Linked DNA regions of Homo sapiens. The protein of the gene in region 4 purifies or fractionates together with the protein of the main gene of each other region. This does not show direct contact. Each region holds a gene or a part of one and is shown on either strand. Other genes may lie near its edges.

The links.
Region 1: the proteins of DOK3 (region 4) and BLTP3B purify together in Homo sapiens (affinity purification with mass spectrometry; 3 studies listed by BioGRID and IntAct, with this or other methods). This does not show direct contact.
Region 2: the proteins of DOK3 (region 4) and AMD1 purify together in Homo sapiens (affinity purification with mass spectrometry; 3 studies listed by BioGRID and IntAct, with this or other methods). This does not show direct contact.
Region 3: the proteins of DOK3 (region 4) and COA7 purify together in Homo sapiens (co-immunoprecipitation; one large-scale study listed by IntAct). This does not show direct contact.
Region 5: the proteins of DOK3 (region 4) and QTRT2 purify together in Homo sapiens (co-immunoprecipitation; 2 studies listed by BioGRID and IntAct, with this or other methods). This does not show direct contact.
Region 6: the proteins of DOK3 (region 4) and INPP5D purify together in Homo sapiens (co-immunoprecipitation; one study listed by IntAct). This does not show direct contact.
Region 7: the proteins of DOK3 (region 4) and MIOS purify together in Homo sapiens (affinity purification with mass spectrometry; 4 studies listed by BioGRID and IntAct, with this or other methods). This does not show direct contact.

The regions. Positions count from the first base shown.
Region 1 is NC_000012.12:100,083,228-100,088,047, forward strand, and holds part of BLTP3B (bridge-like lipid transfer protein family member 3B), read right to left. Parts: intron 3,132-4,820; coding exon 3,048-3,131; intron 1,432-3,047; coding exon 1,249-1,431; intron 1-1,248. UniProt on the Homo sapiens protein: Tube-forming lipid transport protein which mediates the transfer of lipids between membranes at organelle contact sites. Required for retrograde traffic of vesicle clusters in the early endocytic pathway to the Golgi complex.
Region 2 is NC_000006.12:110,891,345-110,894,878, reverse strand, and holds part of AMD1 (S-adenosylmethionine decarboxylase proenzyme), read right to left. Parts: intron 2,719-3,534; coding exon 2,676-2,718; intron 2,581-2,675; coding exon 2,436-2,580; intron 2,145-2,435; coding exon 2,052-2,144; intron 1,970-2,051; coding exon 1,814-1,969; intron 1,404-1,813; coding exon 1,263-1,403; 3' UTR 1-1,262.
Region 3 is NC_000001.11:52,691,172-52,695,991, forward strand, and holds part of COA7 (cytochrome c oxidase assembly factor 7), read right to left. Parts: intron 1,697-4,820; coding exon 1,556-1,696; intron 1-1,555. UniProt on the Homo sapiens protein: Required for assembly of mitochondrial respiratory chain complex I and complex IV.
Region 4 is NC_000005.10:177,503,360-177,507,390, forward strand, and holds part of DOK3 (docking protein 3), read right to left. Parts: intron 1,752-4,031; coding exon 1,652-1,751; intron 1,557-1,651; coding exon 1,384-1,556; intron 1,302-1,383; coding exon 624-1,301; 3' UTR 34-623; coding exon of another isoform or gene 1-33. UniProt on the Homo sapiens protein: DOK proteins are enzymatically inert adaptor or scaffolding proteins. They provide a docking platform for the assembly of multimolecular signaling complexes. DOK3 is a negative regulator of JNK signaling in B-cells through interaction with INPP5D/SHIP1.
Region 5 is NC_000003.12:114,069,481-114,074,300, reverse strand, and holds part of QTRT2 (queuine tRNA-ribosyltransferase accessory subunit 2), read right to left. Parts: intron 3,676-4,820; coding exon 3,463-3,675; intron 1-3,462. UniProt on the Homo sapiens protein: Non-catalytic subunit of the queuine tRNA-ribosyltransferase (TGT) that catalyzes the base-exchange of a guanine (G) residue with queuine (Q) at position 34 (anticodon wobble position) in tRNAs with GU(N) anticodons (tRNA-Asp, -Asn, -His and -Tyr), resulting in the hypermodified nucleoside queuosine (7-(((4,5-cis-dihydroxy-2-cyclopenten-1-yl)amino)methyl)-7-deazaguanosine).
Region 6 is NC_000002.12:233,171,112-233,175,931, reverse strand, and holds part of INPP5D (phosphatidylinositol 3,4,5-trisphosphate 5-phosphatase 1), read right to left. Parts: coding exon 4,780-4,820; intron 1-4,779. UniProt on the Homo sapiens protein: Phosphatidylinositol (PtdIns) phosphatase that specifically hydrolyzes the 5-phosphate of phosphatidylinositol-3,4,5-trisphosphate (PtdIns(3,4,5)P3) to produce PtdIns(3,4)P2, thereby negatively regulating the PI3K (phosphoinositide 3-kinase) pathways.
Region 7 is NC_000007.14:7,606,489-7,610,083, forward strand, and holds the end of MIOS (GATOR2 complex protein MIOS), read left to right. Parts: intron 1-507; coding exon 508-604; 3' UTR 605-2,444; downstream 2,445-3,595. UniProt on the Homo sapiens protein: As a component of the GATOR2 complex, functions as an activator of the amino acid-sensing branch of the mTORC1 signaling pathway. The GATOR2 complex indirectly activates mTORC1 through the inhibition of the GATOR1 subcomplex.

The DNA.
Region 1 (4,820 bases), on a different chromosome or scaffold from region 4:
ATACTAACTTCTCAAACAAGATAATATTTGTGGACATACTTTATAAATTATAAAGTAATACAGGATGTAAGTTATTGTGATGATTATTCTTTTAAGAAGAATCACACATGTCACATTTAAGTTAGTCTTCTACAAAAACTCTGGAATGGGACTCTTGTTAAAAATGACATATTTACATAGAAGTAGAAAGTGAAGGGTATGGGGGAGGGAAGGGGAGGGGCAGACAATGGGTGATTAGTGAATACAAAGGTATAGCTAGATAGGAGAAGTAAATTCTAGCATTTATAGGGTGACTATAATTAATAATTTATTTTTTCAAATAGCTAGTAAGAGCAGATTTTGAATGCTCCCAACTTAACTAATAAATGTCTGAGGTGACGAATATGCTAATTACTCTGCTTTTAGTGTTATACGTTTGTATACATGTATCAAAATATCACATTTCAATGCTTACTGGGCCAGCAAAAAAAAAAAAAGTAGTAGTATCACACTGTACCTCATAAATACGTACAATTATTATGTGTTGACTTAAAAAAAAAAGAAACCTTCTAGAAAAATTCTTCCTGGGTGTGACTATTATTGGTTGTATTAATTTTAAAAGTGCTTTGGTCCACAAGCCTATGTTGGTCTGAGCAAAGGATACAGGGGTTTTAGACATTAATTAAAAATACTTGGCTTAGGCCGGGCGTGGTGGCTCACGCCTGTAATCCCAGCACTTTGGGAGGCTGAGGTGGGCAGATCACTTGAGGTCCAGAGTTTGAGACCACCCTGGCCAACACAGTGAAACCCTGGTTCTACTAAAACTCCAAAAATTAGCTGGGTATGGTGGCATGTGCCTGTAATCCCAGATACTCAGGAGGCTGAGGCAGGAGAATCGCTTGAACCCGGGAAGCAGAGGTTGCAGTGAGCCGAGATCACACCACTGCACTTCAGCCTGGGAGACAGAGTGAGACCCTGTCTCAAAGAAAAAAAAAAAATACTTGGCTGGGCATGGTAGCTGACACTTGTAATCCCAGCACTTTGCGGAGGGCCAAGGTGGGAGGACCGCTTGAGGCCAGGAGTTTGAGACTACCCTAGGCAACATAGCAAGACCCCCATCTCTACATTAAAAAGAAGAAAAAAAAATACTCATTTACAGGAAATACTATGATCACACACACACACACACACACACACACACACACACACACACACACACAGAGTGCAAACACTCTTAATATTAGGGGAATGCTATTATAGGTAAAATACCTGTTTGTGTGTGCTGGGGAGAGGCATGTGTTGGGGATTTAGGAGGTGAACCTACATTATGATCCTTCACAGCCTGTTTAAGCATTTCAACGTTGCACTCAAATTCATGCAATAACTCATTGGCCCATCCATTTTTTGTTTTGGTTGCATCACTAAAATACATCCAATGATTACAACTATCTCCTGTAAAATGAACAACAGGTATTTCATTGAAAAATGTACAACTTTCATTTATTATATTATAGTAATGCTTCCAATGAGATTTAGTCGTTTATTCAAGAAAGACTTTGATATCTGAAAAATTTACAGGCTTCACCTACATGTAATTTCGAAATATGAGTAAAACATTTGAAACAGAGGGAAAGAATGTCAAAAGCAAATCATCTGGAGGAGTTTCTATCTAGTACCCATTCTTAGTAGAAAATCACTAAGATTCAATTTAAAGCCATATGACTCGTCACCCTTCACTGGATGCTCAATTACCTGGTAAACCTGCATTAAACTGAATCCCAGAAAATATTATCAAATAAATAGAATCCTTTCTTCAAAGATGTGTTATCAAGTTAACTAACAAAAACCTAAACCACAAAAATGATAAGATGATGATGATTAAAACATTTAAGAAACCAATAAAACTTCTCAAGATGTACTCAGCCATAGTTAGTTTTTGGAAGAAAAATATATAATCAGAATCATTAGGCTTCTCTGTAGCAACTAAGAAAAATGCACATAAAAGGGTTAAGACAATAAAATCAGGCCAGGCGCAGTGGCTCACATCTGTAATCAATCCCAGCACTTTGGGAGGCTGAGGCAGAAGGTCGAGGCTGTAGTGAGCAGTGATCACACCACTGCACTCGTGAGGCCTTGGATCAAAAAAAAAAAAGAAAATTTACTCTATGAATGTTTCACACCTCTTCAAAAATAAATATCTAGTTAAAAATTTTATGCATTTGTAAGTTAATTTATGAGTCAGGACGATAGTATATAAGACAAAATCCTTCAAAAGAGAATTATTATATTGAATGTTGGCAATGAAAATTTAAAATGAAAAAAAAATCATACAACTTTTAAATTTAATCAGGTACCAACATAGAAATGACAAACATTGGTTAAAAAACGTGTAAACAAAAATGTGTGAACAGAAAAACTTTACCATTTTTTAAATGTCCTGGAAAACTCTATGATCTCTAGTTTGGTTTTTCTCACTTGTGTGAATGCTAAATACTAACAGAAGGCAAAAACGGTATAAAGTCAAATTAATTTGGTCACAATAATCATACTTTTTTTTTCTTTTCATTATTTGGGAGAAAGAATCTACCAATACCAGATTGTTAAGAGCCTATGAAATCTGGAATCCTATAATTTAGCTAAACATACTCTTATTCTTAGCTTCATACTCTTTTCATTCCTAGCTTCATACTCTTTTCTAATTTTTAAATATATAAATCATTTAAAAATTTAAAACATTAATAACTTGTTTTGGTCACAACTAACAAAACAGCACAAACACATGTCCTCTGTACCCTGATTTTTTTTTAAGTTTTAAATTGGTTATTTGGAAAACTGTCAATTTCTAAAAATTATGATTTCTAAAAATCTATATAAATGTCAATATACACTGTATGACTATATTCCATGGCAATTCTACTTTCTTAATGAAATACTGCCAGGAGAAAAATACCAATCTCTTCATCTCATTTCTTGTTAACAAATAAAAGCAAGATAAAACTAAACTAAATAAATTAGCTATATAATTTGAAAACAACATTTATATCTTTTAAAGATGCTGTTATACACACCTGCTTTATGATAAGGATAATAATCTATAGTTAGCTGTGTAAAAGAGAGTTGCATTGCCCCTCCAGTAATACGTCTGTTTGACTCTGGGAAAAAAAAAGGGGGGGGGGGAAATATTAAGTCAATTATCAGAAAGATTTAATTTACCACAGAAAAATTTTAGCATACTTGGAGTCCAAATAGTAATAACTGTCTCTCTTTTATGACGGCACATTAAGGATTTTAGGAAATATAATTCAATCCAATGAGTATTTACTGAGCCCCCCTCATTTGTAAGGCACCAGGATAAAAGGTAAGAATATAAGAATAGCAGAATCCCTGCCCTGGTAGAGTTCACAGATGATACTAGCACAACTTTTATATTGACAAGGCCTCCCCATATGTCAGGCATTATTTTAAATACTTTAGGTAAACTTACTCATTTGGTTTTCATAACAACCGCATTTGATAGGTACAATCATTATTATCCCCATCTTCAAGATAAGGAAACTGAGGCACAAAGAGGCCAAGGACATACAGCTAGTTAAGTGCAAAGCTTGGATTTGAACCCAGGAAATCTTGAACACTACACCATATCATCCTACCTCTTACTGAAAAGGAAATTAAGGCTGGGCGCGGTGGCTCACGCCTGTCATCCCAGCACTTTGGGAGGCCGAGGCGGGTGGATCACGAGGTCAGGAGTTCGAGACCAGCCTGGCCAACATAGTGAAACTCCGTCTCTACTAAAAATACAAAGATTAGCTGGGCATGGTGGCACGCCCCTGTAGTCCCAGCTACTTGGGAGGCTGAGGCAGGAGAATCGCTTGAACCTGGGAGGCAGAGGCTGCAGTGAGCCGAGTTTGAGCCACTGCACTCCAGCCTGGGCAACAGAGTGAGACTCCATCTCAAAAAAAAAAAAAAAAAAAAAAGGGAAATTATTAAAAGTCTGTTAGGTTAGGTAAGTTGTCCAAAGTCACACAGCTATAGTAAAATCAAAAGTAGATTACAAATTGGTATAACGTGAACATAAAAATCAAATTTTAAAACAAAATGGGCAAATCAATCAGAAGAAAGAAAAATACTAACTGAGACATAGCTATGTATACACTCCCTATATTAATTTGTAAAATCCAATTTATCTCAACTAGTAGAATTTTCAGCACAGGTCTACAATCCCTTACGTAAAACCTTTGGAAAGCCAAATGTTTCAGAATTCAGAAATGTTTAGATTTCACGACAGTAATATGATACGGTATATACAGGATATACCATGCAACACTCTCAGCAGGTTCTGAGGCAGCACTAATAAAAATAGCAATTCTGCAGCAAAACATAAATATTTATAGGAAGCAGGCAAAGAATAAAAAAAAGTATTGGCATAAGTCAGGTTTTGCCACCAAATGAGTTTTTCACAAACTTATAATATTTCAGAGCCTTTTGGATTTCACAATAGTGATTACAGACCTGTACTATTAAGGAGATATTTTGGTGAAAAGGTTTTCTTCCTAAATAAAATCATTCAATTTATTCTATCAGGGAATAGTGAGGAATGTAAGGCCTTAGAAAACACTTTCTCCATTCTCATTCTTACTACTTAATCTTGACCACCTCATTTTCTTAGTTTGGTTTGTTCTAACTTTTTTGGATTTTCCTTTCAAATCTCTAAAGTAAAAGATGCCAACTATAAGTCAAATGACACAATGGTAGTCAGAACAAAAGATAACAAATCCCTCCACAAACCCCGAATCTTCCTCACCTTTGCCCCTCCAACCTTTTAGGCTGGAATCTTTTAGGCT
Region 2 (3,534 bases), on a different chromosome or scaffold from region 4:
ATTCATTTCATCCTATGAATGCCATGGTAAGGGAAACACCGTAGTTAAGAGGAACAGATGAAGTCGGAACACTCACATGCATCACAGTCACAGAACTTTAAGTCACGAGATGGAAAAGACATTGATTCTGCTTTGGATCAAAGTTTATAGAACACTACTTAATGGAAACTAGTGGAAATGGCTGCTAAAGGAAAAGTTAAGGTGAATGATCCAAGCTGACTTGATTTACTGAATCCAGAACAAAATTATGCTAAATCTCTCTGGTAATTAACTAAATAAAAATGATTTTATACTACTACTAAGTTAGTAAAGGGGTGCTACTCATTAGACGCTAATCTCATTTACTGAGGAACACAGAATTGTATGTTTTCCACAGTTCAGCCAGTACACCCTAATCTCAATCTACAACTCTGGGTCTTCCCTGCTAACCAACTATTTTCCAAAAGAGCACATTACAATAAAAGAGAGGCTAAATTCCCATGCCCTTTAAAGAATATTAAGCCCAGGGACCATCTCCCCCATTCCCCATCTGGGGTATAGAATTAGTATATAAACCCACAGTGTTAACAGTGTATTGCTTTATTTGGGGTCTTGGGGGAGACACCAGGGAGAGGGAAGAAATCAAAGGACTATAAATGCAGGGTCCAATAATGTTAAAATAGCAAATATGCAAAATGAGTAACTGGAATCATTTTCTTAAGGACTCAACTCATGGAAGAAAAACTTTAATTGCTGTTTCCAAAAACATCAGTATGAAGTAGAAATTGGTTTCAATAACATTAGTAAAGAATATGTTCTAGAAAGTGGAGGTAACTGGATGTAAAATTCTGGCAGCAATTTAATAGAACAGTCCTAGAGGGTTAGGCTGAGGCCAACACCTAATGAGGACGAAAGCCTTGTCTGTGGGGAATTTTGGATGATACTTGGAGAAATATTACACTGTGCATAAACCAAATTGAGTTGCTTTCACAAGTGTTGTAAAGTTTCATATAGTAAAAGGTTTTTTCTACATGCACTTCAATTTCACAGCAAGAGTGGCAGAGAATACCTAAACACAGAAGAGAGCATTCATGCAAGATATCTAACTCCTTGATATAATAATGCATACAATTCAAAATGATTACACTATCATTACATCTAGGGCTTTCTGCAACTACACAGTGGTGGTTATGGAAAGCACTGCCCCCAGCATCGACATCTAGAAAGCATCCACCACCTTCTACATGTGTTCTCTTTTTGCGTTTTTTCTTCATTTTTCTTAATCAACTCTGCTGTTGTTGCTGCTTCTTAGCAAAACTGGTAAAAACAAAATTGTAATCATTGAACATAGCACTCTGGCAATCAAGACGCTTAAAACCTTCAATCTTCTGGGGCGAAGCAAGCACTGTGCGACATTTAGAACTCTGGGGGAAAAAATTAAATAACCGTTAGTGTTTGCAATCCAGAGAAGTATTTTCAACCAAAACAGTTAAGTGACAGACTTTTATCTTAATGAAACTAAGACATCTGAGTTATTTTAGCTGCCTTCTTATGTGCTGGAGGGGCCAGGGCATCTTATGGTTCCTCCCACCAGAGGCCTGTCAATAGCAAGACAGGAGGAACCCATCAGTTTGGCTAGACAGAAAACAAGGACTGACACAGGTCTAATGAAACAAAGCTTCTCAGCTACCAGTAACCTCAAACAATATTACTTCTGGATATCTGAGTGGCTGGTATATGTGCTATCTCAGAATACATCTTAGGCCTCACTGTCTCATTTCCTTTAAGATTTTAAAAATCAAATAACCTGATTAATAATAAAATATAAAATTACCTGATTAACAAACAAGGTGGTCACAAATTTTCCTGGCTTGAAGACTTCTACAACTTTCCTGATCAGGTCATCATAGGAGGTCTGACTTAAGTTTGTTTCAAAGCTAACATAAGAAAATTCTGGTTCTGGAGTGATGTGAATAGTCCAATAAGTTCCCTGAGAGAAAAAGTTCACAGTGTTAAGAATGGAAAGACTATTCACATTTAAATAATTATTGAAGCAATATATAACTACTCACATCCGATTTCATTCCATTCATCGAATACCCACAAGGATTGAACATTGTGGCATCAATGACAGAACCTGGTATCAGGTCACGAATTCCACTCTCCTGGGGGGGGAAAAAGACCGAGTTTAACAAGGGTTTGACAAATAAACTTCAATTGAGTCCAAAATTTAGTCCCAGGGTGGGAGAAGGGAGAGGACCAGGAAAAATAACTAATGGGTACTAGGCTTAACACCTGGGTGACGAAATACTGTGTACGACAAACCCCCATGACACAAGTTTACCTATGTAACAAACTAGCACTTGTTACCCTGAACTTAAAAGTTACAGAATGAAAAATAAAATTTAGTCCCCACGCAGAAGAGTCCAGCAACAATTATTACTAAAAATGCTTACACGAGTGACATCCTTTGCAGTAACACCATCTTTCATGTAGAACTGGTCCATAACTGCTGGGTCAAGCTCACTCATCAGAATTTCCAAGGTTTGATCTGGCTGACTGATTACCCGACTCTCTGGGAAATCCAGAGTATATAAGTACCTAAATAAAAATTAAAAATAGTTCCTAAAAATGACAATTGGCAGTTTAAATCTTACATAGGACAACAAAAATCCACAAAATTGCATTAAACATACCAACAGTCAGAATTCATACGTCCCATACAATATGCTGCTCCATCTGTTGAGGGAAGAGAACGCAAAATAAATATAACACATCCATTTAATAGGATGGTTTGTTACTACCCTTCCACAATAAGCAGAATGATACTATTTGCCACTTATTAGAAATGTCATCCATCAGTGGACTGGGCATAGTAGCTCATGTCTATAATCCCACCCCTTTTGGCAGGGAGGCAGAGGTGGGCTTGAGGTCAAGAGTTCGAGCCTGGCCAACATGATGAAACCCCATCGCTACTAAAAATACAAAAAGTAGCTGGGCGTGTTGGCACATGCCTATAATCCCAGCTACTTGGGAGGCTGAGGCAGGAGAACTGCTTGAACCCGGGAGGCGGAGGTTGCAGTGAGCCAAGATCACGCCACTCCACTCCAGCCTGGGTGACAAAGCGAGACGCCATCTCAAGAAAAAAGAAATGTCATCAGTGAAAGGAATGGAAACAGTAGGTAAATTCCCAGATAAGCAGGATCGACTGACTTGGCGGGTATTTGCAGTAAATACCCAACACTCTGATTAGCCTGGTTTGGTTTCATATTAGTAGATGTGCTAAGTTCAATTTTCATGCTTATGAGCGACTTTGTGCAAAGTTACTAAATTATCTTAGGTTTTCAGCCTTATCTAGGAAGTAAGGATGTTATCAGATAACCTTTGTTCCCTGACCTCTATAAATAAAAGCTTAGTAAATGGATGAAAGAAACCCTTACGAATTTCATTCAAGAAACACTAATTTACACTGTGCAATTTTAAAAAGCCAGGTCAATTATTATATAAAATGCTGGAGCAGAGCACTAGGCATTTTTCTGAAGGGAATCATATCCT
Region 3 (4,820 bases), on a different chromosome or scaffold from region 4:
TTGAGAGGCCAAGGTGCAAGGATTGCTTGAGGCCAGGAGTTTGAGACCAGCCTGACAACATAGTGAGATCCTGTCTCTACAAAAAATAAAAAATTAGCTAAGCATGGGGGCACGTGCCTATAGTTCCAGCCACTGGGGAGGCTGAGGCAGGAGGATTGCCTGAGCCCAGGAGCTCAAGGCTGCAGTGAGTTATGATTTTATCACTGCACTCCAGTCTGAGAAACAGAACAAGATCCTGTCACAAAAAAAAAAAAAAGCTGCCTGTCAAAGGTCCTATTACTTATTTATGTGTGTGTGTGTTTTTTTTTTTTTTTTTGTGAGACAGAGTCTTGCTCTGTTGCCCAGGCTGGAGTGCAGTGGCGCGATCTCAGCTCACTGCAACCTCTGCCTCCAGGGTTCAAGTGATTCTCCTGCCTCAGCCTCCTGAGTAGCTGGGATTACAGGTGCGCGCCACCACGCCCAGCTAATTTTTTTTTGTATTTTTAGTAGAGATGGGGTTTCACCATGTTGGTCAGGCTGGTCTTGAACTCCTGACCTCATGATCCACCCGCCTTGGCCTCCCAAAGTGCTGGGATTACAGGCATGAGCCACCGTGCCTGGCCTGTGGTGGTTTTAAATATGTCCATAAGTTCTTTAATATTCCTTCCTCTTCAAGAAGTGGAATTTAAGTCCTTCCCCTTAGTGTAGGCTACATCTAATAAATATGTGATAGAAATGAAAAGTGTGTGACTTCCAAAGATAGGTCATAGAAGACACTGTGGATTCTATCTTGTTGTCTCCTTTAAATTACTCACTCTGGGGGAACCCAGACGCCATGTCATGAGGACACTCAAGCAGCCCATGGAGCGAACCATGTCATGACGATCTGAGCTCTCCCAATAACAGCTGGTAAGGAACTAGAGGCCTCTGCTACCAGCCATCAGAGTGAGTCATCTTAGAATTGGAAACTCCAACTTCAGTCAAGCCTTCCAATGTCTCCAGCCCTGGCTCCCTGGCCAATGTCTTGACTATAACCTCATGAGATACCCTGAGGTACCCCCACTAAACCACTCCCAAATTCTTGACCCACAGAAACTATTGAGGTGAACAAAAATAACTATTTTGTTATTTAGCCATAGATAATGTAAACACTATGCCAGTGATAACTACAATTAGAGTACAAGGAGAAAAGACAGAAGGAAGACAATAATTACTGACCCCTTACTCTGTGCCAAGCACATGCTGATGCCTTTTCCTATGCTGTCCTACTTAATCCTCACCACCCTACAAAGCAAGTACTATTTCCCTCCAATTTACAGGTGATGTAACTGAGGCACAGAGTCGAAGTGATTGGCTCAAGGTCCCACTACTTGCCAATAGCATTCCCTAAGGTTTACCTAACTTGAAAGGCTGTGTTCTTCCCCCCATCACTCTGCTGAACTCCTACCTCTCCATCTTCCTACAATGCACTTTCCCAATGCCTGCGAGACCCTTCTGCAAGAGCTTATCATGGGGCTCAGGTGTGAGGCCAGCACTGCTATCAATGACAAGGACCCAAAAGGCAGGCCCTCCTTACCTTTTCCAGTCACATAGTAGGCCCCCAGTTTGTAGCAGCTATCACTGTGCTGGTTCTCTTCACAGTTAAACTTCAACACCTTGGCAGCCTCATCAAAATTCTTCCGGATCCCTTCCAAATAGTCCACCAGCCGATAGCAACCTGCGAGAAGAGGGCAAGGGTTGTTCTTCATGTCTGGGGCTGCTGCTCGCAGTGGGGACTTGGGGGTAGGGGGTGCCCAGGTGTGGCAGGCCAGGTGATGTCTTTTAAGACAGCCCCTGTCCTCCTGATGTGTGGCAAGTTGGCCTTACCACAAAGAATGTAGGTGGTGTTTAGCCATTCCTACAAATGGCATTGTCTCCCCACAGCCATGGACTGAGCAATGCATGGCTTGGGGAGACCTCAGCCCCTGCATTGGCTCTACCACTCACCAGCCCTTCTGCTCCCTGTCAGCCACGCCCAAGTATCCACTGACTTCCATGATTGAAACTTTGCTAGTTTTGGAATCTCTCATGAAGTTAAATGGTAAAAACAGTGAAAACCTAAAAGGCTCATAGGCTAGTCTTTGTAGCAGCAAGAAAAGGGTGCTGGGCCAGGCTCGGTAGCTCATGCCTGTAATCCCAGCACTTGGGGAGGCTGAGGCAGGAGGATCACTTGAGGTCTGGAGTTCGAGACCAGCCTGGACAGGGTAAAACCCTGTCTCTACTAAAAATGCAAAAAAATTAGCCAGGAGTGGAAAAATATAAAAAAATTAGCCAGGTGTGGTGGCGCACACCTGTAATCCCAGCTACCTGGGAGGCTAAGGCAGGAGAATCGCTTGAACCCAGGGGGCGGAGGTTGCGGCGGGCCGAGATCACGCCACTGCACTCCAGCCTGGGTGACAGAACGAGACTCTGTCTTAAAAAAAAAAAAAAAAAGAAAGAAAGAAAAAGAAAAGGGTGCTGTAATGACTATAGCTTACTCCTCAGCCAGGGTAGGAACATGAAAGCCAAAGAGAAAGAGTAGAGGCGGCAGCTTCTAATGAAAATAGGCTCTACTTCCTTGGCAGTCTCCCAGTCCCAGTAAACCTCTTTCCTTAATCTCTCTCCCCTCTTCTTTACCCCCAGTGACAACATATATCTCTCATTCATTTTCGTTCAACAAATATTTGAGCATCTCTATGCATCTATGTACCAGACATGGTTCTAGATGCTGAGAATATACTCATTTGCCCTCCTAAAATTTACATTCTAGGGGAGGAAATACAATAAATAAATAAATGAACAAAATTTATTCAAACAGTAATAAATGTTATAACAACTCAGAAACAGGAAGTGAAATACTGCATGTCCTCACTTATAAGTGGGAGCTAAATACTGTGTACACATGGACACAGGGAGTGTGGAATAATAGACACTGGAGATTGGGAAGGGTGGGAGGATGGTGAGGAATAAAAAATTACCTAACAGGTACAAGTGCATTATTTGGGTGATGGTTGGTTACATTAAAAGCCCAGACTTCCCCAGCAATTTGGGAGGCCGAGGCAGGCAGATCACCTGAGGTCGGGAGTTCTAGACCAGCCTGACCAACATTGAGAAACCTCGTCTCTACTAAAAATACGAAAATATTAGCCGGGCATGGTGGCGCATGCCTATAATCCCAGCTACTCGGGAGGCTGAGGCAGAGAATCACTTCAACTCGGGAGGCGGAGACTGCGGTGAGCCGAGATAGCGCCATTGCGCTCCAGCCTGGGCAACAAGAGCAAAACTCCATCTCGAAAAAAAAAAAAAAAAAAAAGCCCAGACTTCACAACCAGGCAATATATCCATGTAACAAAACTGCACTTGTACCCCTTAAATTTATACAAATAAATACATAAATGCTATGACTGAAGTAAAACAGGATAACTGTTTGCTGTCAACTTTGGGTGAATGGCTAACAAAGACTGAGCCACTGGGGAGGGGCTCACCAAGGACTGTGACCTCAATAACAAGAAAGCACTAGCTATTTAAAGACAATGAAATGGGAGTGGGGCAGGGATTTGGAAAAAATTTAAAAATAAAAAATAAAAAATGAAATTAAAAGACAATAAAATGGGCAGGGGCACAAAGTCCTGGCACAAGGAACAGTAAATACAAAGACCTGAAAGAATAAGTTTGGCACGAATAAGGTACAACATGGCTGAACCAAGGAGGAGGGTCAGGAAATGAAGAAGGAAGGTAGGGACCAGACCATAGGCCTCGTGAAACATAGGATGGAGTTATGATTTTTTCCAACTGAAACAGTAAACCACTGGAGGGTTTCAAGAAAATAAGTAATATGATTCAGGCCAGGTGTGGTGGCTCATGCCTGTAATCCCAGCACTTTGGGAGGCCAAGGCGGGTAGATCACTCGAGGTCAGGAGTTCTAGACCAGCCTGGCTAACATGGTGAAATCCCGTCTCTACTAAAAATACAAAAATTAGCCAGGCTTGGTGGCGCACGCTTGTAATTCCAGCTACTTGGGAGGCTGAGGCAGGAGAATCACTTGAACCCGGGAGGCAGAGGTTGCAGTGAGCTGATATCGTGCCACTGTACTCAAGCCTGGGCAACAGAGCAAGACTCAGCCTCAGGGAAAAAAAAAAAAAAAAAAAAAGCCAGGCGTGGTGGAACACGCCTGTAATCCCAGCTACCTGGGAGGCTGGGGCAGGAGAAGTACTTGAACCTGGGAGGCAGAGGTTGCAGTGAGCTGAGATTGCACCACTGCACTCCAGCCTGGGCGACAGAGTAATACCCTGTCTCAGAAAACAAACAACCAAAAAGCCACCAAAACCAAACAAACAACCCCACCCCCCAACAAAAACGTTACTCTGGTATATATGTTCATATATGCCTGAGTATGGAGGAATTTAATTATGTGAGGGTATATAATTGGGCATTGATAACAAATAGGTTATTTTAAAATCTAATATTTAACATAACAAAATTGAAATTAAAATATCAGTTTATCTGCGAGTAGAAATGGATTTTAAGGGAGTAAAGTGCAAAGAGAGGGACAGGTTAGAAGGCGACTTCAGTTATCCAGGTAAGAAAGTGGGACATGCAAGGAACTACTACACCAGTCGCTACGGTAACTATAGCCTCTTCTCAGGTCTCGTAAAGTGCTGCAGCCAGTCCTTTTGATATATCCACCCTTCCCAATTCCAAGAACTTGCTTCTCAGACATGTTTTGCTCTCCATTGCCTACAGAGCAAAGTCTATATTCCTTACCCTGGCATTCAAGCCCTGACATACTGTGGGCCAGACTCCCGCTTCAAACGTACTAAATC
Region 4 (4,031 bases):
GAGGAGACTGACGCCTGGGGTTCCCAGAAGTATCTGCAAATTGTTGGAGTTTCAGCAGGGAACAAGTGTTTTGGACGAGGGTGTCTCTGAAATCCCTTCCACCTGCACCCCGCCCCCACTGCCTCCTCCCAGCTCGGGCCTCCGGGTCTCCAGTTGGGCCCTCATGTTGCTCCTTCCTGAGTCTGACAAGTAAGCCTCACAGCTCCCTCCGCCTGCCTCTTCGTGTCACTCGGCCGTGCAGAGCAACATGGAGTCCTAATGATTTCCATCCCGTCTGTCTGCTGCAGTGGGTTTGAGCCCACGGGTGGCAGGTAAGGCCCAGGTCACCTGTGCCCCTGGAACCGGCACAGGGTGCTTGTGTTGGCCGCAATGAACGTGGGCAGGGGCGTGTGCCGTGAGTGCCCCTGCCGGGAGCTGCTCTGAGCTTTATTATCTGTGAGTCTGCACACTATTCATGAGGAGGGCAGGGCAGGGCTGAGGTCCTCCACAGGCGGCCTGCCTTGTTCCTGCAGGCCAGGGTGGACACAGGCGTGTGTCTGCATGGGCCCAATGTTTGCCCACCAGCCCACCCTCCTGTCCCAGGGGGAGCACCTCTCCCCTCTGGCCACCACTCTGCTGGGCGTTCAGGGCCGGTCACAAGGGGCTGGGCCCTTCCTCCGCTCACGACTCAGCAGGGTCACCAGCTTGGCCTTGAAACCTGCCTGAGGGTCAGGGCGGCCTGTGCCCTCCACCTGATCCAGCTCCAGCAGCCGCCGGTACTGGGCCTCCAGGGTACTGTCGTTGGCCGGGCCGGGCCAGCTCAAGTCCTGGCCGTTGTGGTAGATGGGACTGGTTGTGGGGCTGCGGCTGCCGGGGCCCTCGTGCGGCTCAGGTTCCCCACCGTGCAGCGTGGGGCTGGCCTCCAGCACACACAGGTTCTCATAGAGGTGCTCATTGCCTGGGGGCCCACTGGCACGCTTGCACACTGAAGCGTAGAGCCCGGACGCCAGATCGTTGGGCTCCGGGCCTAGCAGTAGCGGCAGGCTCTGGGGTCCGGGCTCGGCCAGGTGCATTTTCCTGGACGTGGGTGGCTCAGGTCCTGGTGGCATCTCCCGAAGCTCTCCGGGGGTGTCCAGGGAGGGCAGAGAGGTGGCCCGTGGCAGGGGGCAGGGCTGGGGCCTGGTCAGCTCTGGCAGCCGCTCCCGCTGGCGGGCGATGGCCCCGGCCACAGCCCTGCACAGGTCAGGGGCACAGGGGGTGCTGAAGGCAAAGAGGCCCTCACCCGAGTGGCAGCGACGGCCGGCCTCAAAGGAGAACACGCCCTGGGCACAGGGCACACGGGTGGGGATTAGCAGGAGGGTCCAGGGTGTCAGCCCCTCACCCTTTCCCACCCCTGCACCTCACCTTGTCGGAGCCGAACTTGCGCAGGAAGTGGTAGGGCCAGCTGTAGAGGGCCTGGGTGCCCTTGGCCTCCCTCAGCTGGATGGCGTCTGGGCCCAGCACCAGCAGGGCCGGCCCCTTCAGCTGGCAGCGGGTGGCGGCCTCAGTCCTCTGCACCACCACGGGAAACTCGCCCACTGTGGCAGGTGGCCAGGACAGCTCCGTCAGTCCCAAAAAGACCCAGCCCTGGGTGTGGGGGGCTGAGGCTGCCCTTGCACGTCCTCCAACTTACCTTCCTGCCAGGAGGAGTAGATGGAGTTTTCCTCCATGGGGACCAGGCCCCTCTTGGGAGACTGGGCATCTGTGGATCCTGAGGAGGCCTCCCCTGTCCCCTGGGGAATGAGTTCAAGTCAAAGGTGAGAGCACCGCACTCCCATGCCCTGTCCCCTCCCCTCAGTATCCCAGAACTCCACAAGCCAGGGGGCATCCAGGGGCCTGGGCTCCAGTTCCAGCTTTGCCCGGCTCGCTGCATAAGCCTAGGTCCCCTTCCGAGCCTGTTCTCCCACCTGGCTCCCCACTGAGAGTGCTGGGCTGGGCAAGAGGCACTGTGCTTGAGGGTGTCTGAGAGCTGCAGATCACTGGGGACACAAAAGGATGTCCCTTGCAGCCCCTGGGCTTGGCTGGGCCAGCTTCTGTATGTCTGACAGCCTAGAGCAGTACCCCAGGTGTCTTCCTCCATCTCACCACAGCCACCTGCTATGACCCTGCAAGGTGCCCCCAATCTCTGCCTCATCCCCACACCCAGGCCTTCAGCATGTCCCCTGTGCTCTTTCCCACTCAGCTCCTCTACTAGCACCACCCTGGCCCATAGCAACACAGCCGGGTCAAATGCCACAGCTTCCTCACCAGGCTCCTTGCTCCTGTCAACTGCCTTTTTTTTTGACATGGAGTCTTGCTCTGTCACCCATACTTGAGTGCAATGGCGAGATCTCGGCTGACTGCAATTTCCGCCTCCCGGGTTTGTTTTTTTTCTTTAAGATGGAGTCTCACTCTTGTCGCCCAGGCTGGAGTGCAGTGGCGCGATCTTGGCTCACTGCAAGCTCCGCCTCCCAGGTTCACGCCATTCTCCTGCCTCAGCCTCCCAAGTAGCTGGGACTACAGGTGCCCGCCACCAGGCCTGGCTAATTTTTTTTGTATTTTTAGTAGAGATGGGGTTTCACCATGTTAGCCAGGATGATCTCGATCTCCTGACCTCATGATCCGCCTGTCTCGGCCTCCCAAAGTGCTGGGATTACAGGCATGAGCCACCGCGCCCAGCCCGCCTCCCGGGTTTAAGTGATTCTCCTGCCTCAGTCTCCCAAGTAGCTGGGATTACAGGTGCCCACCACCATGCCTGGCTAATTTTTTGTATTTTTAGTAGAGACAGGGTTTTACCATATTGGGCAGGCTGGTCTCGAACTCCTGACCTCAGGTGATCCACGTGCTTCGGCTTCCCAAAGTGCTGGGATTACAGGCACGAACCTCCATGCCTAACCTCAACTGCCTTTTGTTTTTTGATTTTTAAAATATGATAAAATACAGAGAACATAAAATTTACTGTTTTAACCATCTTACTTTTTTTTTTTTTTTTGAGACAAAGTCTTGCTCTGTCGGCCAGGCTGGAATGCAGTGGTGCGATCTAAGCTCACTGCAACCTCTGCCTCCCAGACTCAAGCAATTCTGCTGCCTCAGCCTCTCAAGTAGTAGCTGGGATTACAGGCGTGTGCCACCACACCCAGCTAATTTTTGTAATTTTTTTTTAGTAGAGATAGGGTTTCACCATGTTGGCCAGGCTGGTCTCGAACTCCTGACCTCAGGTAATCCGCCTGCCTCGGCCTCCCAAAGTGCTGGGATTACAGGTGTGAACCACTACGCCCGGCCCATTTTACATCTTAAAGTGTATCATCAGTGCTCTTTTTTTTCTTTTCTTTTTTTTTTTTTTTTTTTTGAGACGGAGTTTTGCTCTCGTTGCCCAGGCTGGAGTGCAATGGCATGATCTCGGCTCACCGCAACCTCTGCCTCCCAGGTTCAAGCAATTCTGCCTGCCTCAGCCTCCCGAGTAGCTGGCATTACAGGCATGCACCACCATGCCCAGCTACTTCTGTATTTTTAGTAGAGACGGGGTTTCTCCATGTTGAGGCTGGTCTCGAACTTCTGACCTCAGGTGATCCGCCCGCCTCGGCCTCCCAAAGTGCTGGGATTATAGGCCTGAGCCACCGCACCCGGCCACCAGTGCTTTTTAGTATACTCACAAGGCTGTGCACTGTTGCCACTGTCTAGTTCCAGAACTTTTCCATCATCCCACATGGAAGCCCTGTACCCATGAGCAGCCACTCCCCACTTCTCCCTTCCTCCAGCTCCTGCCAACACTCATCTGATTTCTATCCCAATGGAGTTACCTTGTCTGTACATTTCTTTCTTTCTTCTTTTCTTTTTTTTTTTTGAGACAGGGTCTCACTATGTTGCCCAGGCTGATCTTGAATTCCTAGGCTCAAGCAATCCTCCTACCTCAGCCTCCCAAAGTGCTAAGATTACAGGCAAGAGCTACTGTGCCAGGCGTTTGTTTGTTTTTATGGCTGAGTAGTATTCCATCTTGCGGACGGACCACGTTTTGCTTATCCATTTGTCAGCTG
Region 5 (4,820 bases), on a different chromosome or scaffold from region 4:
AAACAGTGGATGAAGCAAGATGATTACTCTGTTCTGTGTGTTCTGAATTTGAGGAATCAGCAGGATGTCCAAATGGCAATCTTAATTCAGCCACTGAACCTAAATGAACCTAAAGATAAGGCTATGTGTGATACAAACATGATTGCCCAGGCTAGAATGGCAGACACTTGGCATGATGCTACCACTCTCTACTCCTGATTCCACAGCAGATGTGACTAACAGATGACTCTCTTCTTGCTGCACCCGACCACCTCGGTTGAAACCATTCGCCATCCCTAACCCAGGTAATATATGGAGAAGAAAAGAAAGCCAAAAACCGAATCTTGGAGAGCTTCAATATTGAAGGGCATTCAGAATAAGAGGAGCCAGTCAATAAGACAGGGAGGGAATCATGGGAAAAGATGTATGCAGAAACACAAAGCAGAGAGTTACATAGGCCTGCCTGCTTATACGACTAGCATGACTATTCGGGAAACTCCCTTTCCTGGGTGTAAGAAGCACGATCATATAATTTATTATCTAAAATGGAAGAATGGGGGGGCACTATTAATAATCATGTCAAGACAATAATAAAGGGTATGGAGAGGGACTACACGTTTGACCAATAAATATGCATAAGTAAGGCCGGGCGCGGTGACTCACATCTATAATCCCAGCATTCGGGGAGGCTGAGGCAGGCGAATGAAAAGGTCAGGGGTTCAAGACCAGCCTGGCCAACACAGTGAAACCCCATCTCTACCAAAAAATACAGAAATTAGCCGGGTGTGGTGGCGTGTGCCTGTAGTCTTAGCTACTGAGGAAGCTGACACAGGAGAATCGCTTGAACCTGGGAGGCAGAGGTTGCAGTGAGCTGAGATCGCACCGCTGCACTCCAGCCTGGGCGACAAGAACAAAACTCCATCTCAAAAAAACAAACAAAACAAAACAAAAAAACCCCCACAAATATGCAGAAGTAATATGAAATGATGAGGCTGACTGCAACAACACAGATGAGGGACTTGAGGCTCATCTGACCTTTCTAATAATCATCTTTGTCACACTCGCTGTCCTGCTTTCTACTTACCCAAACATTACTAGTCCTACAAGGATAATGACTGGCTCAAAACAATTACTAGCAAGCCACCAACACTAACTGCCCAGACACACAGCAATGTCCCCACACCAAACTCTTGTTACATATACTGTGAATTCTATTCAGAATAACTATGTTTCCTCTAATTATTTCATTTATATTAACTTTATTAGCCAAATTATATTTTTATTGCTAAATTCAATATAATGATGTTCCTCAAACTCAATGCGCTTGCCATAGTGGGATGTGATCATCGCTCAGGATTACTCCACATACATGATCTCAAATATTAAAATTCTCTCCTCTGATCACTATCTTCTGTTCCCTCATCTCTACTGTTCTCTGAATCCTTTTCCCACTTAATTAACTCTGCTATCAGTATCCCTGATTTACCACTACAGCTTCATCTTCACCCCATCATAACCATTCACCATCAGCAAACATTTACTGAGGGCTTACAATATGTCAGATGAAACCCATTCGCCATCCCTAACCCAGGTAATATATGGAGAAGAAAAGAAAGCCAACAACCGAATCTTGGAGAGCTTCAATATTGAAGGGCATTCAGAATAAGAGGAACCAGTGAATAAGACAGGGAAGGCATTCTGCTGCATGATGAAGATACCCAACTTATACACAGAAATTGAGCTTAAAGAGGCCACAGTTTAATGAAGACAAATGCATAAAGAAATCATTGAAATACAATATGATTGGGGCTAAAATATAGCTACATACTAATTAAAGGGGTAGCAAAGAATGAATTGAATTCCCTGGAACTATCAGGAACCAGTTCTACAGAATGACACATGGCACTTCGGGAGGCCAAGGTGGGTGGATCACCTGAGATCAGGAGTTCAAGACCAGTCTGACCAACATCGTGAAACCTCGTCTCAGCTAAAAATACAAAAATTAGCCAGGCACGGTGGCGCATGCCTGTAATCCCAGCTACTTGGAGGCTGAGGCAGGAGAATTGCTTGAACCTGGAGTTGGAGGTTGCAGTGAGCCAAGACTGCCCCACTGCACTCTAGCCTGATAGGCTGAGCAATAGAGTGAGACTGTCTCAAAAGAAAAGAAAAAAAAAATGAATGATACATGGAATGAAATGAGCCTCATGTGGAAACAAAAGAGGGAATATAGCTAGAGATAAGAAAAGCAGAAACAAGAAACAGTCCAGAAGGAAATCCGTGTACAGAATGAAACAAGCTAATGCCTCAAGGAATTCCAAGCAACTCAGAAAGGTCAGAGTGCAAGTCACAGGAAAAAGTAGCCCACAGTGAGCTGGAGGAGTAGGTAGAGGCCACATCACAGCAGGCTGTCCATGCCATGTAAGAGTTGAAGTGGAGAGTCATTAAATTCTTTTAGGGAAGTGGGCAAGGAGCTCTTGTTTGTGCTTTACAAAGATCTTTTGGATAACAGGGCTGAAAGATGGATTGGATAAAAATGAGAATGGAGGCAGAGAGAAGAATTCAAAGGTAATTACATACGTAAGAGATGATGCAGTTACGGCTTAAGGTGGCAATAAGGAGGGGAAGATTCTAGACATATTTAGGCAAATGGAATCAAGGAAGAGTGAACAGTGGGATATTAAATGTGAATGAAAAAAAGGAGTCTTGAAAAGCTCAAATTTCTTAGCCAGGCACAGTGGCTCAAGCCTGTAATCCCAGCACTTTGGGAGGCAGAGGCGGGCAGATCATCTAAGGTCAAAAGTTCAAGACCAGCCTGGCTAACATGGTGAAACCCGGTCTCTACTAAAAATACAAAAATTAGCCGGGTGTGATGGTGCATGCCTGTAATATCAGCTATACGGGAGGCTGAGGCTGCAGAATCCCTTGAACCTGGGAGGCAGAGGTTACAGCGAGCTGAGATAGCACCACTGCACTCCAGCCTGGGCAAGAGTGAGACTCAAAAAAGAAAAAGAAAAGCTCAAATTTCTGGGCTGAGGAGCTTGGTGGATGCCATAAATGGAGATAAAGTATTGAGGAAGAGCAAAAGCAAGAACAGGTTTGTGGAGATAAAATGATGAATCCGGTCACTTCTGAGTTTGAGGGATATTCTAGTGACATAACCTACCTATAGCCCAGTAATTACATAATTCTGAAGCTAAGTAGAATAATCTTGATAGTATATACAATTTAAGAATTATTCAGCAATTAAAACTAAGGGAAGGCTGCCCAGGGACAACATATAGAAAGGGATGAAAAGAGAAACCTAAGATAGAAACCTAGAGAACAATAATACTTAAGGTTCAAAAAGAAAATAAAAATAGAGAGTAAAATAGACAAAGAAGTGAGGAGCACAGCAGTAGGAGGAAGAACAGAAAAGGTGGTATCACAGAATGTAAGGGAGGCAAGAGTGTCAAGAGAAAGGAGTGGTTAGTGGCACAGCCTTACCTCTGACTCTTCCTGCAGCCGCAGACAGTTATCCAAGAAAAGAAGTGATCGGTCAACAGACTTTCTGACCCTTTTTATGGAAGTTGCTTCCTTACAAGATACTTCTCCATCGGAGAGGCACTGGAACCAGTCTGGCTGAAGGGCCTTCTGAATTGCCATGAACTTGGAAACAGTCATTTCCACTCGTCCTGCAACACTCCACACAGACACAGACTGCCATGGAGCAAAATGATGAGGAATTAGCAAGAGTAAAATGCAAATAAAAATAAAATAATTAAAATGATAAAGCAATAATTCTTCTTTACAACTGCAGAGATGGTGACAATTCAATATCCAGACATGGTGGGTAATAGGATCTTATAGCTTACAGATAATCCTTCAGTGGTCATATAAGACAACTTTTGAGCTACCCACCAAGAATTCTTTGTTATACTTTTCTAACATCTTCTGCTCTCCCCTATCCCACCTGCCCCACCCCTACCTAACCCTTGCTGTTCCTGAATATACCACAGACTTTGATCACACTGTTCCTTTTGACTGACAGTTCCGTATTTCTTTTTCTTTTTTTTATTGATACATATTTGTATAATGTTATGGGGTACATGTGAGACATCTTACATATAGGGCAAGTGTAATAATCATGTCAGAGTATTTAAGTATCCATCACCTCAAGTATTTATTATTTCTAGGTGCTGGAACTTCTACTTCTTTGCCTGGCAAAATACTACGTGTCCATTGAGACACTGAGTTCACATATTAATCTGATCTCCAAACCTCCTGGACATAATCGATCACTCACTCCTCTATGCTCTTACATCAATTTGTATTTATTTCTTTATAGAAATGATAGCACTTATTACACCATTCTTTATTTGTCTGACTAGAGTATCCCAATTCATGTATGTATCCCAAAAGCACAGTCTAGGGCCCTATACATTTTTAATATCTAGTGTTTACTAGACTGAGTTAGATATAGAATTAAAGACTTAAATCTCCTAGTTCAAGAGAGTATATATTAGTAATATTCTATCTTTGAGCTAAAAGCAAAACTACCATTCAACCCAGCAATCCCGTTACTGGGCATATACCCAGAGCAATATAAATCATTCCGCCATAAGGACACATGCATGCAAATGTACATTGCAGCACTATTCACAATAGCAAAGACATGCAATCAACCTAAATGTCCATCAATGATAGATTGGATAAAGAAAATGTGGTACATATATACCATGGGATATTATACAGCCATAAAAAAGAATGAGGTCACGTCTTTTGCAGGAACATAGATGGAACTGGAGGCCATTGTCCCTAGCAAACAAATGCAGGAACAGAAAATCAAATACCACATGTTCTCA
Region 6 (4,820 bases), on a different chromosome or scaffold from region 4:
GGCGGGTGGATCACCTGAGGTCGGGAGTTCGAGACCACCCTGACCAACATGGCGAAACCCCATCTCTGCTAAAAATACAAAATTACCCGGGCATGGTGGCGCATGCCTGTAATCCCAGCTACTCAGGAGGCTGAGGCAGGAGAATCGCTTGAACCCAGAAGGTGGAGGTTGTGGTGTGCTGAGATTGCGCCACTGCACTCCAGCCTGGGCAATAAGAGCAAAACTCCATCTCAAAAAAAAAAAAACAAAAGTTTTTATTTTCATTCTCTCTACTTCTGAACCATTCACTTTTTAAAAAAAACTTTAGGTACAACTTACATAAAGTGTACTAACCATAAGTGTACAGTCCCATGCATTTTTAGGTTTGTATAAACCCACTTACCCACTACCCAGAGCAAGATACAGAAAACCGCCATCATCCTAAAGCTTCCCTCATAAGCCTTCCTTGTCAATACCAGAGCCTCCTAAAGGTGAGCATTAGTGTGACTAACATCTCCATTGATTAATTTATATGAACGTATATAAATGGACTCACTCAGTAGATACTCTTTTATGTTGGACTCCTTCAGCCACTTCGTTGCTTATAAAAGTTCCATTGTTTATAAGTATCACATTTATCTACTCTACTGTTAATGGACATAGGGTTGTTTTCAGTTTTGAAGATTACAAACAAGGCTGCCATAAACATTCATTTTTTTTTTTTTTTTTTTTTTTGAGATGGAGTCTCGCCCTGTTGCTGAGGTTGGAGTGCAGTGGCATGGTCTCGGCTCACCACCATCTCCACCTCCCAGGTTCCAGTGATTCTCCTGCCTCAGCCTCCCGAGTAGCTGGGATTACAGGCGCCCATCAGCATGCCCGGCTAATTTTGTATAGAGACGGGTTTCGCGGTGTTGGCCAGACTGGTCTGGAACTCCTGACTTCAGGTGATTCACCTGCTTTGGCCTCCCAAAGCTCTGGGATTATAGGCGTGAGCCACCATGCCCGGCTAAACATTCTTATACCTATTTTTGGTGAACAAATATACAAATTTCTCTTGAACACACACCAAAGCGGAATTACTGAATCATAGAATAGGTGCATTTTTAGTTTTCATTGATTCTGCCTAACAGTTAGTTAAGTCCTTTTTTTTTTTTTTTTTTTGAGACAGGGTCTCACTCTGTTGCCCAGGCTGGAGTGCAGTGGGGCAATCTCAGCTCACTGCAACCTCTGTCTGCCGGATTCAAACAATTCTCCTGACTCAGCCTTCTGAGTAGCTGGGATCACAGGAGTGCGCCACCACACCTGGCTAATTTTTGTATTTTCAGTAGAGATGGGGTTTCGCCATGTTGGCCAGGCTGGTCTCAAACTCCTGGCCTCAAATGATTTACCTGCCTCAGCTCCCAAAGTGTTGGGAATACAGGCATGAGCCACTGTGCCCAGCCTAAACAGTTACTTCTTAACATTGCAGTTCTCGGCATCAGCTGCCTCTGAGAATTACCCGTGGGGCTCCACAAATAGTCATGTACCACAGTAATGGACTGCATATAGGACAGAGGTCCTACAAAATTATAATGGAGCTGGAAAATCCCCATCACGTAGTGCTGCTGTAGCTGTCATCACGTCACAGCGCAACACATTACTCACATGCTTCTGGGGATGCTGGTGCAAACCAGCCCACTGCACTGCCAGCTGTGTAAAAGCATAACAGTACAATTCTGTTCAGTACATAATATTTGATAATGATAAACAACTGTCACTCATTTCCGTGTTTACGATATTATTTATCATTAGAGTGTATTCCTACTTATAAGAAAATGTTAACTATAAAATAGCCTCAGGCAGGTCCTTCAGGAGGTAACCAGAAGAAGACATTGTCATCATAGGAGACGACAGCTCCATGTTATTGCCCCGAGGACCTTCCATGGGATGAGATGTGGAGGTGGGTGATAATGTCATTGACCATCCTGAGCCTGTTTCAGCCTAGGCTAATGTGTGCATTTATGGTTTTTGTTTTTGTTTTTTTTTTTGAGACGGAGCCTTGCTCCAGGCAGGAGTGCAGTGGCGCCATCTCGGTTCGCTGCAACCTCTGCTTCCAGGTTTCAAGCGATTCTCCTGTCTCAGTCTCCCAAGTAGCTGGGATTACAGGTGCACACCACTACGCCTAGCTAATTTTTGTATTTTTAGTAGAGACAAGAGTTTTGCCATGTTGGCCAGGCTGGTCTCGACCTCTTGACCTCAGGTGACTCACCCACCTCGGTCTCCCAAAATGCTGGGATTACAGGCATAAGCCACGGTGCCCAGCCTACGTCTTAATTTTCAACAAAAAAGTCAATGTAAATGAGAGTTTTGAAATTTTAAAACTTGAAAAAAAGCTTATAGATTAAGAATATAAAGAAATAAAATATTTCTGTACAGCTGTACAATGTGTTTGTATTTTAAGCTACATTTTATTACAAAAGCGTCAAAAATTAAATTGTTTATAAATAAAAAGCTTATAAATAAAAAATTACAGTAAGCTAAGGTTAGTTTATTATTGGAAAAAGAAAATTTAAAAAATAAATGTAGGGTAGCCTAAGTGTACAGTGTTTGTAAGGTCTACAGCAGTGCATAGTAATGTCCTAGGCCTTCGCACTCATTCACCACTCACTCACTGACTCACCCAGAGCAACTTCCAAGCCTGCAAGCTTCATTCATGGTAAGTGCCCTATACAGGTGTACCACCTTCTTTTTTTTTTTTTTTTTTTGAGACACAGTCTTGCTCTGTCACCCAGGCTGGCATGCAATGGCGCGATCTCGGCTCACTGCAACTTCCATCTCCCGGGTTCAAGCGATTCTCTTGCCTCAGCCTCCCGAGTAGCTGGGGTTACAGGCGTGTACCGCCATGCATGGCTAATTTTTGTATTTTTAGTAGAGACAAGGTTTCACCGTGTTGGCCAGGCTGGCCTTGAACTCCTAACCTCAAGTGATCCACCCACCTCGGCCTCCCAAAGTGCTGGGATTATAGGCATGAGCCGCTGCCCCCAGCCCATTTTTTTCTTTTTATACCATATTTTTACTGTACCTTTTTAATGTTTAGATACACAAAAACTTATTGTGTTACAGTTGCCCACAGTATTCAGTAAAGTAACATGCTATACGGGTTTGTAGCCTAGGATCAATAGGCCACACCATCTAACTGAAGTGGGCTTTGTGTATACACACTTCATGAGGTTCCCACAATGACGAAGTCACCTAATGACACGCTTCTCGGAACATATCCCCGTTGTTAAGCGACGCATCGCTATTTTCAGCTGCCTTCTGGGTATTTTCTCTGGGTTCTTCCACTGATGTCACACAATCAGTAAGTCTGAAAACAAGTTCTATTTTTTTCCCCTTCAAGCCAGCTCCGCCTTGTGATTTTCCAGTTTTTATCAATGGCAATCAGGTCTCGCAATATATCCTGATTTCCCCCTTTCTTTCATTTTCACTGTTTTTTCCCTGATTCGGCCCTAGCTGTTGCTCAGCTGAATGTGCACAACGGCCTCCTCACCGATGCCCCTGCCGCGTCCTCATCCTTTACCACAATGCCCACCACAATTCTGCACATGCCACTCTGATGCACCAGTGCCCGGCAGAGCTTGCAGTGGCCCCCTGTGGCCTGTCATCCTGGCATCTAGGACCGGCCACTCTCCCATCTCAGGCCCTCCTCTGCCTCAACTTAAACTCACATCAAAGCAAACCATCCTTCACCAGCCTGCACAGGGATCCCCAAGGACCTGCTCTGACAGTGCCTTTGGGCCAGGTGACCTTATCCACACAGCAGGCAGTGGACCCTGCGGAATGGGGTGTCCCATCCTGGGGGTCCCAGCCTCGTGGGTGACAGCAGTCCGGGATCTCCTCCTGTCCTCTCAGTTGTATTCTCTTCCTCTCCTGCTCTGTTCTAAAATCCACCCAGCGCTTGGCCTTCCTCTCCCACGTCCAGTTCTTCACTTTCTCCTGAGCCCAGATGGGGCCCAGAACTCTTTCAGATGACACTTTGAACTTGCGCTCCATTGCCCTAGGCTTCTAGTGGGCCTGGGTACCTCACCGTCCCAGCCATTTGACCCTTGAATCCTGCCAGGGGCTGGCTTCCCTGATCCTTCCCTGCCCTGGCATTGTCACATTCTGGCTCTGGCTACAGCTAGTTGCATATCTGTTTTTCCTACTGTGAAGTCCCTGGAAAAGACATCTTTGCTCTCCCATCACCTAGGAGAGTGCCTAACCCATAATAGGCCATCAGGAAATATCTTTGAACAAATGAATACATATTTTATTGCATCTTTCCCCAAAACACTGTTCCTTGGAAAACAAGTGGCCTCATAAGACATTAATTGGTGTTCCATGAATAACTGAGTTTGGCATACAGATTTCCTCATGGAGAACCACAGTGCTCTTGGGCCCATAAAAGCTCTGATAAGTCCTGCAGCGAAGAAACCTGCTTAATGTTAATTCACTCAGCAGTTTAGTAAATATATTTGATCACGGGACTTTAAAAAAATGATCTTCAGAACCCAGTTAAGGAAATAATACTTTAAAGTCCTCTCAGCATCTTAGAGTATCTGGACAGAAGGTAAATCACAAGGGTTATTTTCCCAGCTCAAAGCAGTGCACAAGTGTGGCTTCCCATTTACTCTGTAACACAAATCAACATGTGCTTTCTAATTTTTTTCTTTCCTTTTTTTTTTGCCTAATGGATGAAGACACTTTCTGTTCACCTTTTGGGAACAGACACCAGCGGGGAGGAGATGGAGGGCAGGGAAGGTGTCTATGAAGAGGACTCACCCCTGTCGCTTTCTGCTTGGTGTAGGCGTATTTGTCCCGAG
Region 7 (3,595 bases), on a different chromosome or scaffold from region 4:
AAGACATATTTGAATTTCATTTTGAATGGTGCCAGTGGCCCTGTGCTCCTGGTTGATACAGCATTTATACCCAGTTTGTCTTACTAGCTAATTTAAACTCTGAGCACATCCCTGTCACCTTCACAACTATAAATGAAATATCTTGCCATATATGTAGAAAGTAAAAGGTATGTGTTTCTTAACTTCTCCCTAAACTTCAGCTTGGCAGTAGTTTATAATTTGATGCTTTTGATGCTTTTTTTCTCTGGGTTTTAGTTTCTATATTTTTCCAAATGCCATTTTGAAAAGTTGCATTATAGATAGATATAAGTAAACAGGTGGGCACAGTGGTGCACACCTGTAGTCCCAGCTACTCAGGAGGCTGAGGCAGGAGGATCACTTGAGCCCAAAAGTGTGCGTACAGCCTGGGAAATATAGGGAGACCCTGTCTCTTAAAAAATAAATAAATAAATAAATGTATGTCTGTCTAATTTGGATTTTTAACTGTTATTTGACCTATTTTTTTAGGGACCATGCAGAGTGCCCTGTGTCGGCATGCACGTGTAAATGTATGCAGTTGGATACAACAGGGAATCTGGTACCTGCAGAGACTGTCCAGCCATAAAATGTTACCACCTTAAGAGAACCCTTCAAGTGTGGAGCTTTCTAGTAGGTGTCCTTCATAGCTCAGAAACATACCTCAGAACAAGCCATTCATGACTTACCTGTAATGGGAAAATAAATCATTCTATCAGATCAGCAGTTTTGATGTTTGAGTGATTTTGATATGCTTCACAGAGACAAATGCTGCCAAAATAAACATCGAAGTATAGACATGAGTTCTGTTCAGCAGGTTGAAAAGTCTGATTTAGAAAAACTTTCTAAGTTTTGGTTGAAATTATGAACACTCTAGAAGCAGAATTTCTGGAAGAGCCAAGAACAGACTTTGAGCCTATATCTTCAAAGCTGAAACTGGATATCTTTCAATAAAATATGTGCACTTTTAAAATAAAATGACTAATTCTGTGATTCAGACAATAGTTTTAAGTTCAGCTGTGCTTAGATTTCTTTCAGATTAATTTAAAATTACAGATTTTTACTTTTAGAATTGCAGAGCCCCTATCCCACACTGGAGAATATTTTTTATTACTGTCTGTTATATATGTGTCTATGTGTGTGTGTATATTTATGTGTGTATGTATAAATATGTATTTTTTAAAGGAGCCTTTTCCCTCCTTTGATTTTAAGATAAGCAATCTTTTGGCATAACATTATCGTCTTCCTAGAAAAGCCAAGATGAAGAATCTATCTTACAACTTTTTCTCTTCAGTAGAGAAAAACATGTACCATTTCAGGTGAACATACAAAATTTTCACTTTCTACCTTTTGCCTTCCAATGTCCTGATTTGTCTTCAAAGGTTTTTCTCCATATTAATTTGTCATCTTATCCTCATCACCTGAGAACATTTTACTGCATACAAAGTCTATGCAAGATTATATGTAACTAGCCATTTAGTATAATCTATGTCAGTGTTTCTGTGCTGTCAAATTCCGTCCTGATTTGGAATACCATACCTTGTTCTTTCCAAGGTAGACTAGGAAGTGTTGGGGAAATGGGGTCACTTCAGAGACCATTTTAGATGTAAGTTTTTAAATGTAAGTGTTACTGGGGCTAAGTCAGGTACTTTATTTAAAACATTTTTTTTTCTCATTTCATAGCTAGATAGTTGTAAGAGAAATACAAAGAATTTACAAGATGCTTCTCTGTCATCTGCCATATGCAGAGGGACTGAACTAGGAATTTTGTAGTTGAAGCTGTGTTCATAAAGAGTAAATCTTATTTTATAGATTTTGGAGAAATAAAACAAGAATTTTAAGAGCTTTCGTATTAGCAGTTTTGCCTTATAAAAACTAAGATTTGTCAGATTAGTTTGAGGTGTAACCTAAATATTAAAAGTAGATTAAATTTATTTTTTACCTTGAGTGTCTGATACATAAAACCCTTTTCTAGGAAAACATTGGAAGTAGTACATATTTACTCTAAATGTCTCACCTGCATGACAGTCTTTTCAAATGAAAGACATGGTAATTGCAATTTTTTTTTAAAGATTGCTATTAAGGGTACTTTTTCCAGCCTTCATTTGAGTAAATCTTAATTGATTTCATTTTATTAACATATACCCTTTACCTTTAATATTTCATTTGAAGTGTTCCTTTCAAACTTACTGTCTTAAATATGAAAGTCAGCTTTAAGTAATGTCAGACTCATATGCATTTTCATTCTCATTAGCTAAAGTAAAATGTAAAATTATCTCAAATAGTTACAAGTTTTGGAAATACAGTATAAAACATGAATGTAAAGTCTATTATGTAATATGCTTATTTGTAATCCTAATATATGAGGGTGACATTTTTAAGATTGTATGTATGTGTCAACCTCTTAAATGTTTTCTGTGAAGCCCAAACATGCAGTTTATGTCTCTGGTGTCTGTTTTGCATTTCAGTGTGCATGGACAATCAAATTATTTTCTCATTTTTATCACTAAGTCACTGGTATTTGGGTTTATAAACTCAACAAGATACTTTACCTAAACATGATCAATAGATGTGTTTATTAAAAGTGTTTTTATTATTTTTAAAAGATTGAATAAATCTGGGTTGAAGTCATTGTATCTAATCAAGAAATTATGATTCCTTTACAAATAATCCACGTGAAGTAATATTGGTGCTTTTTTTGATGACAGACTTCATACTTAATATTAGAAGTAACATTCCTTTTAGGCTCTGTTTTTCAATTCAACCCACTTTCCAGAATAGTTATTATCCTTTAAAATGGTATATTTTAAAAGTAGCTTCCCATTGTCAATGCTTCACATAGTAAGTATTTAAAAGAATGTAGTTCTTCATTTAATTAGATGACTCAATTTCAGTCATTCATTTGACTGCAAGTAGTTAAAGCATGGTCTTTGAAACATAAATTATAATCCTAGCCTCGGGATCTTCGGTAAGTGACTTGACCTTTTTGAGCTTCAGTTTCTTCATATGTTAAAAGAAAGATACAGAAATACCTACCTCAGAGTGTGGGAGTATTAGGTGATGCAATAAACATGAAGTGCCATATCCCTGTCACATGGTGCTCTATAAATGGTAGTGATTAGCAGTCATTGTTACCTTCATTTTCATAGATTGCTCATGTATCAGTACTTTTTCAATGAATACTTATAGTATAATTTTAATTATAGTTAAAATTATAAGTATAATGAATACTTATAATTTTAACGAATCTACATTTGTCTCAAGAATGAAAATTTCCTTGGTGTGAGTTAGCTGAAATAGATTTTCTTAAAAAGAGTGAAAATTCCCAATAATAGTTATACTCCAAATATAGGGTAAACAAAAGTAGCTAAGTCCTGTCTCAAAAGAAAAATGCCATAATTTGGATAAATTTATAGTATTACTGTTTTTGCTGCATGCAAAAATCCTCCAAATGACCTCCTAAGAGTTAAATGTGATATAAAAATGAACCCAGAGGAAAAAATTATGGCAAATTTAACAACTGACTATTGAAAACTTTAAGTTTTATGTCTAAACTCTTAATTTAACTACGTTTAAATTG